Linked DNA regions of Homo sapiens: region 1 is linked to region 2. Evidence: fine-mapped QTL for protein levels in blood plasma. A gene starts in region 2. The other region holds a variant in brackets. All regions are shown on one strand. Distances are from middle to middle. Region 1 overlaps PRCP (prolylcarboxypeptidase). Region 2 holds the start of PRCP (prolylcarboxypeptidase).

Evidence for each region. PIP is the posterior inclusion probability: the model's chance that the variant is causal. Sun 2018 read protein levels with aptamers (SomaScan).
Region 1: its variant is fine-mapped to the plasma level of the PRCP protein (Sun 2018, PIP 0.95). The variant lies in the coding sequence of PRCP. If it changes the protein, the assay may bind it differently, which can mimic a change of level.

Annotation. Positions count from the first base shown.
Region 1 is chr11:82,848,037-82,856,568 of GRCh38, reverse strand. It overlaps PRCP (prolylcarboxypeptidase), which reads left to right. Exons shown (of 9, transcript NM_005040.4): 3 at 3,291-3,392; 4 at 6,064-6,245; 5 at 6,498-6,655; 6 at 7,351-7,520. Among named protein-coding and RNA genes, the nearest start is that of PRCP, 48 kb to the left of the region's middle. The variant A/C (reference allele first, on the strand shown) is at 3,317.
Region 2 is chr11:82,897,502-82,900,717 of GRCh38, reverse strand. PRCP (prolylcarboxypeptidase) reads left to right here and starts at 288. Exons shown (of 9, transcript NM_005040.4): 1 at 288-483. The coding sequence starts at 316. RefSeq lists enhancers at 83-182, 333-392, 513-562.

The sequences.
Region 1 (8,532 bases), 47 kb after region 2:
AGTTGTTGAACTCATGCCCCACACCCACACTCCCTGCACTATTAGCCCCTCTAGTAGTCATGCAGTGTCTATTGTTCCCCTCTTTGTGTCCATGTGTATTCAGTGTTTAGCTCCTGCTTATAAGTGAGAACATGCAGTGTTTGGTTTCCTGTTGCTCTATTAGGTCACTTAGGATAATGGCCTCCAGCTACATCCATGTTACTGCAAAGGATATTATTTTGTTCTTTTTAATGGCTACGTAGTATTCTATGGTGTATATAGACCACATTGTCTTTATCCAGTCCACTCTTGAAGGGTATCTAGGTTGATTCTGTGTCTTTGATATTGCAAACAGTGCTAAGATGAACATACAAGTGCATGTGTCTTTTTGGTAGAATGGTTTATTTTTATTTTAAATTTTTATTTAGTTTTTAATTTTATTTTTTGTAGAGAAAAGGGTTTCACTATGTTGCCCAGGCTGGTCTCAAACTCCTGGACTCAAGTAATCAACCTGTCTTGGCCGCCCAAAGTGCTGGGATTACAGGCATGAGCCGCCACACCTGGCCTATTTTTCTTTAGGTATATACCCAGTAGTGAGGATTGGTGGGTTGAATGGTAGTTCTATTTCAAGTTCTTTGGGAAATCTCCAAACTGCTTTCCGTAGTGGCTGAACTAATTTATATCGTACTAACAGTTTATAAGCATTCCCCTTTCTCCACAACCTCACCAACATCTGTTATTTTTTTACTGTTTTTTAATAATAGCCATCCTAACTGGTATGAGATGGTATCTCATTGTGGTTTTCATTTGCATTTCTCTGATGATAATGATGTTGAGCCTTTGTTCATGTTTGTTGGCCTTGTGTATGTCTTCTTTTGAAAAGTATCTGTTCATGTCTTTTGCCCACTTTTTAATGGGGTTGTTTTTTCTTGTAAATTTATTTACTTATTTATTTTATTGTTATTATTTTTTGAACAGAGTCTCGCTCTGTTGCCCAGGCTCGAGTGCAGTGGCGTGATCTGGGCTCGCTGCAAGCTCCGCCTCCCGGGTTCACGCCATTCTACTGCCTCAGTCTCCCGAGTAGCTGGGACTACAGGTGCCCGCCACCACGCCCGGCTAAGTTTTTTGCATTTTTAGTAGAGACGGGGTTTCACCGTGTTAGCCAGGATGGTCTCGATCTCCTGACCTTGTGATCCGCCCACCTCAGCCTCCCAAAGTGCTGGGATTACAGGCGTGAGCCACCATGCCCGGCCCTTTTCTTGTAAATTTAAGTTCCTTATAGATTCTAGATATTAGACCTTTGTCAGATGCATAGTTTGCAAATATTTTCTCTCATTCTGTAGGTGGTCTGTTTACTCTGTTGATAGTTTCTTTTGCTGTGCAGAAGCTCTTTAGTTTAATTAGGTCCCACTTGTCAGCTTTTGTTTTTGTTGCAATTGCTTTTTGGGACTTAGTCATAAATTCTTTGCCAAGGCTGATGTCCAGAATGGTATTTCCTCAGTTTTCTTCTGGGGTTTTTGGGCTTTTTATAGTTTTCAGTTTTACATTTAAGTCTTTTATCCATTTTGAGTTGATTTTTGTATATGGTGAAAGGAAGGGGTCCAGTTTCAATCTTCTGCATATGGCTAGCCAGTTATCCCAGCACCATTTATTGAATACGGAGTCCTTTTCCCATTGCTTGTTATTGTTGACTTTATTTAAGATCAGGTTGTTGCAAGCATGTGGCTTGATTTTTGGATTCTCTATCCTGTTACATTGGTCTGCATGCCTATTTTTGTACCAGTACCTGATGTTTTGGTTATTGTAGCCTTGCAGTATAGTTTGAAGTCAGGTAGTGTGATGCCTCTGGCTTTGTTTTTCTTGCTTAGGATTGCTTTGGTGATTCAAGTTTTTTGTTTGTTTGTTTGTTGTTGTTTTATATGGATTTCAAAATAGTTTTTTTTTCCTAACTCTGTGAAAAATGATGTTGGTAATTTGATAGCAATAGTATTGAATCTGTAAATTGCTTTGGGGAGTATGGCCATTTTAACAATATTGATTCTTCCTATGTATGAACATGGAATGTCTTTCCATTTCTTTGTGTTGTTTCTGATGCCTTTCAGCAGTGGTTTGTAATTCTCATTGTAGAGATGATTCACTTCCTTGGTTAGCTGTATTCCTGGATATTTCATTCTTTTTGTGGCTATTGTAAATGGGATTGTGTTTTTGATTTGGCTGTTAGCTTGATTGTTATTGGTATATAGACATGCTACTGATTTTTATACATTAAATTTGATAATGAAACTTTACTGAAGTTGTTTTGTCACTTCTAGAAGTCTTTTGGTGGAGTCTGTGGGGTTTCTAGGTATAGCATCATATCATTTGTGAAAAGAGACAGTTTGACATCCTCTCTTCCTGTTTGGATGCCTTTTATTTCTTTCTCTTGCCTGATTGCACTGGCTATAACTTCCAGTGCCGTGTTGGATAAGAGTGCTGAGACAGAGCATGCTTGCCTTGTCTTAGTTCTCAAGGGGAATGCTTACAGCTTTTGCCCATTCAGTACGATGTTGGCTATGGGTTTGTCATAGATGGCTTTTATTATGTTGCGGTATGTTCCTTCAATACCTACTTTTTTGAGAATTTTTACCATGAAGGGATGTTGAATTTTGTCGAATACATTTTCTGCATCTATTGAGATGATCATGTGGTTTTATTTTTTAGTTCTGTTTATGTGGTGAATTCTGTTTATTGATTTGTGTATGTTGAACCATCCTTGCATCCAGGAATAAAGCCTATATGATTCTGGTAAATTAACTTCTTGATGCTGCTGGATTTTGGTTTGCTAGCTTTGTTAAGGGTTTTTGCATCTATTTTCGTCAGGGATATTGGCCCGAAGTTTTCTTGTTTCATTGTGTCCCTGCCAGGTGTTGTATCATAATGATGCTAGCTTCATAGAATGAGTTAGGGAAGAGGCCCTCGTCCTTATTTAAAAATAATTTCAGTAGGATTTGTACTGGCTCTTTGTACATGAAGACCATTTTAGACATAATGTTGATGCTAGGGCTAGAGTGTCAGGATAAAAAGACGTGGATGACTAGTGGATGAGCAACCTGGGATTATTTTTAATTGTTTCACTCATAAAGTGTGAGATTGATATGCAACAATAAGACATCAATTATGTCATTTATTTGTGGAACAAACACAAATTGTGCAACTTTGTAGAGTGCTCTTTTTGTTCTGGCTTAACATCTATTCCATATGGTTTGCCAAAAGGTTCAGTGACTTTTTTTCACATTCTGATTTTATCCTGTGATTTTGTAAACTCTTCTTAGGGGTTCATGTGGGATGTGGCTGAGGA[A/C]CTGAAAGCTATGTTGGTGTTTGCTGAACATCGATACTATGGAGAGTCTCTCCCCTTTGGTGACAACTCATTCAAGGTAAAGATACTTTTTACTTAAAAGTTACAAGCTTTTTCTTTTCAATTTAGAATAGTTTCTAAATTATATGCCCCACTGTGAGATAACTTAAATTTGAAATGCCTAAAAGCTCAATAGTTTATATTTAATAGTTTCTTTTTAGATACAATTTGAACAGACTGAGGGTTTTTTTTAAGCCATTTTATTATAATTCTTAATGTTAATCAGTTTTTAACTCTGTGTGCCTCAGAAAGTTAAATTTTACTCTGTGGCTGCAGAGACAGCACAGGGAGCTTTTTATTATTTCAAAAATATCAGTAAACAATTCCGCTTTATAAATCGTACACTTAAATTATTGAGCCTGCCACTGGAAAAAATATAATGAGCATAACAAATTTATCTGATAAGATGTTTTTAATAAAATAAAATCAATAAAATAAGGACAAATAAGCTGTATGATGCATTAAGGCCAACTGGCCCCTTGGATTCCCTTTCAGCCTTTCCTGTTCTCACAGGAGCTTTGGCCTTTGTCACAGACTCTACCTAATAAACCAGGACACTTTTTCTTCAACTGAGTCATTCATGTACTACTACACTTGTGACTTTGGCTATATTAATTTGCCACGTGTACTATTATTTACCTAATATTTTTCTTTAATCAGCTCACTTTTTAAACTTAGCATTATCTTAACCAAGGGCTCTGTGTACTGGTTATTCTTTACAAATTACACTAAAATGAAGCAATAAATGTTCCATTAAAAATGTTTGTGTGCTTCCTAATACCATCAGTGTATACATATGCTTTTGGGAACTCTCAGCTAGAAGGACTTGGGGCCAGTCCTTTACTAGGCTGCCTATTTTGAAAGGAGTTTTTATTTTTAAAAAGGATATTTTACTATCTCATATTATAAATAAATACAATAGTAAAAATAAGTAAAAATGTTGTGTTATAAATATAAAGTGGGATGATTTGCTGATATTTGTTGAGCTGTATGGGAAATTCTATTCTTTAGCTTGGTATTTTGCGTAAATATCTGATTAAGGGACTTGACAAGTCCTGAAACCACTGGGAAGCAGTTAGCTTGTTGTAGATAGAACATAACTTCCTCTCCTAGGTTTCTATAAATGATACTGTGTTAGCAAAATGGAGCCAGGGGCTCTTTTTGATATACTTCTTTCCCTTTGTGTGCTCACAGAATATGTCAGTAGCATGAAGGATATTATAGATATTATGCAAGGATTAGAAAAAAAATGCACTCAACTGTACAGAGTGCCATAAAAACTGGAAGTAAAGGATAGTGACAGACAGGGAGAGAGGAGGTAAGAAGGCATACATCTTGGAAGAGGGGGGAAAGCTAAAGGAGTAGGTGGCATATATAGGAGATAGGAAAGATGGGATCTATGTGATTCAGTAATATGCCAGATGATGGAAGAAATCAGGATGGTGAGACCAAAGCATGAAAGTCAAACAGGGTAGCCTAATAGAGGTATGTAGCTGTATTCGTTGTCTAGTAAAGATGTACTTCAAACCTTATGGCTTAAAACAGCAATAAACATCTATTACTTTATAGTTTCCATGGGTGAAGAATTAGGAGTGGTTTAGCTAGGTGGTTCTGTTTCAGGGGGTCTCATGAGGTTAGGATGTCAGCTGGTGCTGCAGGCATCTGAAGTCTTGACTGGGGCTGGAGAGCCTCTCATATGGAGGATTACTCACATACGAGATAAAACTGGTGCTGGATGTTGACAAGAGGCTGCAGTTAAGGGTCTACTTGAGTTCATTACAAGGCAGCTAATTTCCCTCAAAGTTGGCAGTGCGGGAGAGCAAGGTGGAAGCTGCAGTGTTTTTTTAATGACCTAACCTTGGTAGTCACATATCATTATTTCTGCCCCATTCTATTCATTAGAACCAAGTCATTAAATCCCATCCAAGTTCAAAGGGAGTGGAATTAAGCTTCACCTTTTAAAGGAATGAGTGTCAAGAATTTGCAGACATATTTTAAAAGACCTTCTTAGCCTTCTCAGCTCAGCAGGACACTGGGCTTCACCTTCTGCAGTAGGGAAATTGTCTTCATGTAGAGAGCAGGATGTTTATGAAACTTAACATTATGAGTTTTCCTTTTCTCAAAGATCAATGTCTCATGTTGCCTGTTTTCCAATACCTGAAAATAGTTTTTTTTTCTTTCCAATTTTATAATTGTTTAAAATAGGCAGGCTACTTTGTTTCAGTTGTTGATATGGCCGAGGTCATATATAATCTTTCCGATGAAGAAGGGTGAGTTTTATTTTTACTGGTGATTCTTACCTCAATTGTCCACTAGATTTAGTTTATATTTGCCTGTGTGGCAGACATTTTAAATGTGCCAAGATTTAAAACAAAAGTTATAACAGTTATCTATTAAGCTTAGTTTATATTCGATCACATTTGCTATTAAATTTTACCTACAATTTGTTTCTGTTGTTTCTACAATCTACTTGCATACAAAATACATTATGTTCTTCCACAAACTTAAAATCATTTTCATGAGTTTGAATCCACACAGTTATTGCTTTGACTAGGCATTTTAGCTCAATTGCCTAGAAATTCTATTTAGAGAAAAGCTTATCTGACACTGGCTCTCTTCTGGATCCATGCTATTCCTAAGCTGCTGTTATGTGCACATTTATACCCGTGTTCTTTGTTATATTTCTTTAGGATTCCAGACACTTGAATTTCCTGACATCAGAACAAGCTCTGGCTGATTTTGCAGAGTTAATCAAACACTTGAAAAGAACAATCCCAGGAGCTGAAAATCAACCTGTCATTGCCATAGGAGGCTCCTATGGTGGCATGCTTGCCGCCTGGTTTAGGATGAAATATCCTCATATGGTAGTTGGGTAAGTGCATTTGTACTGGACATGAACGTTTCTTAATGATTATCAAGGGAAACTTAGAGATTCATTTTGGGTAAAACATGTTCCATGCCATTACCCTGAGGTTTCTGGCTTCTGTCTCATTAACAGCTGTGTTATTTTTCTCAATATTTTTATTATGTTTCAACTTTAAAACTTGATTTAGATGACATATATATAATATATATATATATTTTTTCTTTTCTTTTTTCTTTCTTTGATTTTCTTGCCATTTAGAGCTCTTGCAGCTTCTGCCCCTATCTGGCAGTTTGAGGATTTAGTACCTTGTGGTGTATTTATGAAGATCGTAACTACAGATTTTAGGAAAAGCGGTCCACATTGTTCAGAGAGCATCCACAGGTCCTGGGATGCCATTAATCGACTCTCAAATACTGGTAAGCTTTAATTAAGAGAATGGAATTGTGTGTTTTTTTAACCTTTCATTTGTTAAATTCAGTAGTTGTCGCTTTTTAAGTAAACATTTTGTTAAAGTATAATGTACATACAGAAAATTATACAAATCAAAATCAAATCAAAATGCGTAGCTTGATGAATTTTCACAAAGCAAGGACACAGTATAATTAGCATTTAAATCAGTAAAGGGCGTTGTCAGCATCTCAGAAATCTCCTCGTGCCTTTTCAGTCACTACCTCTATACCTACCCAGCAAAAACATCCTCACTTCTAGAACCATAGATTAATTTTTACTTGTTCTTAAATGTTTTAGTAATTGGAATTACATAGCATGTCTTTTTTGTGTCTACTGTCTTTTGCTTAGCACTGTTTGATAGATACATCCATTTGTTTTACTAAGTTGTAGTTTATGTATTCTTGTTGTTCTATAGTGTTCCTATTTATTCATTTTAATAGTATATTAAAAAGGGAGAATAATTCTGAATACTAATTATGGTAAACTCTATGAGGATAGGCAACTTGTCTGTCATGGGATTCTCCAGTTGCTCTGAAAATATCCTGGGAGAAGGGGTATAAAAGATTGAGTTTTCTAAAATACTATGTGAAGAATAAATGATCTGTAAAGACATCTGTTGACCAGTACTTTTTAGATTCCAACAGTGTGATTCTATTCCCAGGCAGTGGTTTGCAGTGGCTTACTGGAGCCCTTCACTTATGCAGCCCATTAACTTCTCAGGACATCCAACATTTGAAAGACTGGATCTCTGAAACCTGGGTGAATCTGGCAATGGTGGACTATCCTTATGCCTCTAACTTTTTACAGCCTTTGCCTGCTTGGCCTATCAAGGTAATAGGAAAATGTCCTGTCATCATTTTTTAATAACACACTTTTTTTTTAATGTGCATACTCTGACTTTCTGCCTCAGAGAAAGTCCCAGTGACAAAGGGGCTCCAGAGTTTGTCAAACTTGAGCTGGAATCCTGGGTTCTGCTACTTTCTGATTATGTGGGCTTGGACATGTTACCTAGCTTTTCTGAGCCTCAGTTTCCTCATTTGAAAAATGGAGATAGAATTCATTGATTATAGAGTTGTACGAATTAGAAATAATACCTAAAGTTGCTGTTAATGGAATAATTACTATGTGCCAAATCCTGGGCTGTGTACTTTGCATGTATAATGTATTTAATCTTTGTGATATATGTGTAACTTCCATCTATGTAATACATGGTTGATGCTTAATAAATGGCAGTCATTATCATAGCACCATGATCTAGTCAGCTGCGAAAGCATTGTAGGTGCTACCCTCAGTGTGAAGAGTGACCCCATGCAGCACAGTAGAGTGGAAAGAACATCAAATTAGATTCTGAAAGTGAGGTTTTGGTCCAGAACTGCTGCTTCACTTACCAACTGTGTGATCTTAGGCAAGGTGCTTTTCTTTCCCCATCCCGTCTTCCTCTGTAGAAGGGAATAACAGTACTTACATACCAAATAGGGTTGTGCTGAGGATCTAATAAAATGTTGGATGTGAAACACTTTGGAAAGTATAAGGACACATTACAGTATAAATTTTAAGGTTCTTTTCATGTCAAAATTATTTATTGTGTATGTTCATTTTAAGCATTTCTTTGTAAAGAGCTTTCCTTTTAGTTTTAAAAACAAAGGCTGGCCAACTTGATGGTTAAATTTAGAGAATATAACCAACTCTTCAGCTAGAATGAGTGTTGGAAGTGAAAATAGAATTGGCGATATAGAGCCGGGTTTCAAATGCACTTTTAATTTAACCACCCCTTTGAATTATTACATGTATACCTTGCTTAAAAATTTGTAACTTAAACAAGTTCATTTGCTATTATTTTTCT
Region 2 (3,216 bases):
TACAGCGATGAGTTAGGAAGAGGCCCTAGCATGATAAGGGCAGACTTGGGGTGTGACCGCAATGAAGGTGAGTGCTAAGGAGCAGATGGCACGAGAGGAAAGTGGAGTGGAGGCGGTGTCCTCGGGGATGGGGGCGGAGTGGCTGTGGTGACCTGGCTTGGGCGGCGTCTCTGAGGAGCTGGCTGGCTTTGGGTTTCCCCTGGGAGGAGCTGTTTTGCGGCGGGCGGAGCTGCAGGCTGGGCAGGGCTTAGCCTGTGCGCTTCTGCTGGCCTCCTTTTCGCCCTCCCACCCGCACTGCAGTCTCCAGCCTGAGCCATGGGCCGCCGAGCCCTCCTGCTCCTGCTTCTGTCTTTTCTGGCGCCCTGGGCCACCATAGCCCTCCGGCCGGCCTTAAGGGCCCTCGGCAGCCTACACTTGCCAACCAACCCCACATCCCTCCCGGCTGTAGCCAAGAACTATTCGGTTCTCTACTTCCAACAGAAGGTAAGGGGGAGCGGGGGCTTCGCCGTCCCAGGCCCAACCGCCGGGAACCCTGACCCTCAGAGCCCGGGCAACGGAGCCTACCTCGAAATTCACACCCCTTGATGCCTAGGATCTGTTCGGTTTTTGGCTAACATCTTCCAGAAGGTGGTCCCAAATCCCAGTTCTGTTTAAATTTTCTCCTCCCATTACCAATAATTTGGTAGTAGTTTTGGCTGCATACTCTTGATTCAGGCTTTTCTGTAATTGGACACGACAGTCACTTCAACTCCCTCTGCTCCCAGAGGGTGCCCCAATCCGAACTCCCTTGACCTTCCCTCAAATTCAAATTATTAAATGCCAGCTCTGGTACCTAGTCTGCGGTGATAGTCATCCTTTGCCCCAAGGCAGCCCTAAATACAAATTTTAATATCTTTACCTATTAGAAAATATTGGATAGTTATCCATCCTAAAAGCCAGCCTCTCAGAAGGGGTCAGCTCAGAGCTGATTTTGTAGCCCTATTATTAAGAATTGTTGACAGTCCCTATTCCCCATAAGACTGAATGTATGTAGCCTATGCTTGTAAAAGGAGTTGTAGGAGTTTGTGGTGGGGGTGGGGATTAGCCTTTCTATGGTCTGTAACGTGAAATTAGAGGTTTTTGGGCTTGATGCCTTTGTGCTTGGCTGCAGCATGAGGCATTCCCCCACAGGTCTTGATGGAAAAGTACATCCTCTGTGAAATGACAAGTAATCCTTACAGTTCAGCATTTCTGAAAGCCTGTGTAAAAATAGGAAAAGATTTGGAAAAGGTTGGGATTAGAAAGAGTGCAAGGGTCTGAAGCTTGGCTTTAGGAGTCAGATAGAACCGGATTCCACCCTGCTAGCTCTGTGACCTTGGGCAGGTTACAGTACTTCTGTGAGCCTAGTTCCTTGATCTCTTGGGGTTTGTGGTGATGGTTGAATGAGAGCAGATAACGTACTCTTAGCAGAGTATCTGGCTTCAAGTAGGCACTCATATAATATGTGGTTATAGACCTATGTGAAATTTTGTTGTTGTTAATTGTGCAGAGACAAGGCTCACTATGTTGCCCAGGCTAGTCTTGAACTTGTGGGCTCAATAATCCTTCTGCATCAGCCTCCCAAAGTGTTGGGATTACAGGTGTGAGCCACTGAGCCCAGCCCTTATGTGAATTTGGAATGGGAATTTGTGGTAGAGGGATGTCATAGACTTCCAGAATAACTTAGAAATAATTTAAAAATTTTTTTATTTTTAAAAATAGAGATGGGATTTTGTCATCTTGCCTAGGCTGGTCTTGAACTCCTGGGCTCAAGCGATGCCCCTGTCTTGGCCTCCCAAAGGGCTGGGATTGCAGGCGTGTGCCACTGTGTCCCCAGCCAAGAAACAATTTTTAACCCAGACATTTGAGTTCAAGTTTATGAGGAAGAGAAAACATTTTAATTTTAGCAGGGGTACTAGGAAATAATCTTTTTTCTCAGGCAACTCCCTTAAATTAATTCTCTAGGGCATAATTCCCTCATTTGTAAATTAGGAGGGTTGGGACAAGGACCAATGTGTTTTACACTTTACTGAGGAAAATTAAGGGCTCTTTGGGGAGCTGTTTCAGAGGGAAAGTGGATGAAGGCTGAAGTGGAGGCCAAATTAGGTGCTCTAGTACCCTCTCTTGGATCTCTTTCAGCTTTTACCTGTTTTATATGCTGGGATTTTATATACAACTATTTGCAGAACTCAACTGCTAAAGTAAAACGGTGGGGAGGACTATTGGATTGGGAGATCTCTAAAATCCCATTGGGATTGATGAAAAAGAGAACTATCAGCAGAAAAGAGGAAGGGAACAAATGAGTTGTTAGTACCTTAGTTCCTAATTTATGTTCCTTTATTGTAGATTCTTTTCTTGGCCACTACACTCCTTAGAAATATAATTCAACACTGTTTCTTTTTCCATTTTTGATGATATGCAAAGTCCAGCTTTACTCAGCCACATTTTGTCCACTGGCTTATATTTAATTTATATTTTAGGATACAGATTCCACGTATGTATTTATTACCATAATAATAATTTTTCTTCTGTCTATTCCAATTGAGTTTTATTTCATTTTCTGAGGAAAACTTTTACATATGTATTTATTGCATAATTATAATTATACTAGTTGCCAATTTCTGAACCATTGATTTTTAGTTAGGACTATGTGTGAACTCAACTTTAAGTTTTTAAGTTAGAGCACATGAAATACTTTGATGCCTTCTAGTAATAAACTTATTATTAAAACTGTAAGGCTTAGTTTTTTATTCAAGGTTTAATTTTTATTAAACTTTATAATGATTTACCTGTGGTTATATCTGCCCCAGTGACCAAGCTGGACCCAGCTGTCCTTCTATGTATATAAAGGATGTGGTTTTATGGAGTGGTCTCTAAGAAGGCTTAGCCCATGGTCTTATCCCTCCCCTGCTTAGAAATTCTTCATAACTCTGATTGCAGGATAAAGGCCAAACACCTTGGCATGGGAATCCATTGTTCCTTACTATGTAACCCTAGCTGGTCGTTCCAACTTTATATTCTGCCATAATTCCCCATCCCAGCTCCCACTTTTAGCAACCTAACAGACTCAAGTGACTTTTACTGTGTCAGAAATTCTGTCTGGAATACCATCCCTCTTCCCCACTATTTAAACTCATAATTCTATTCCAGCAGAAATGTCTCACCTCTTCTGCGAATCTTTGACTTCTTTAAGGAAAT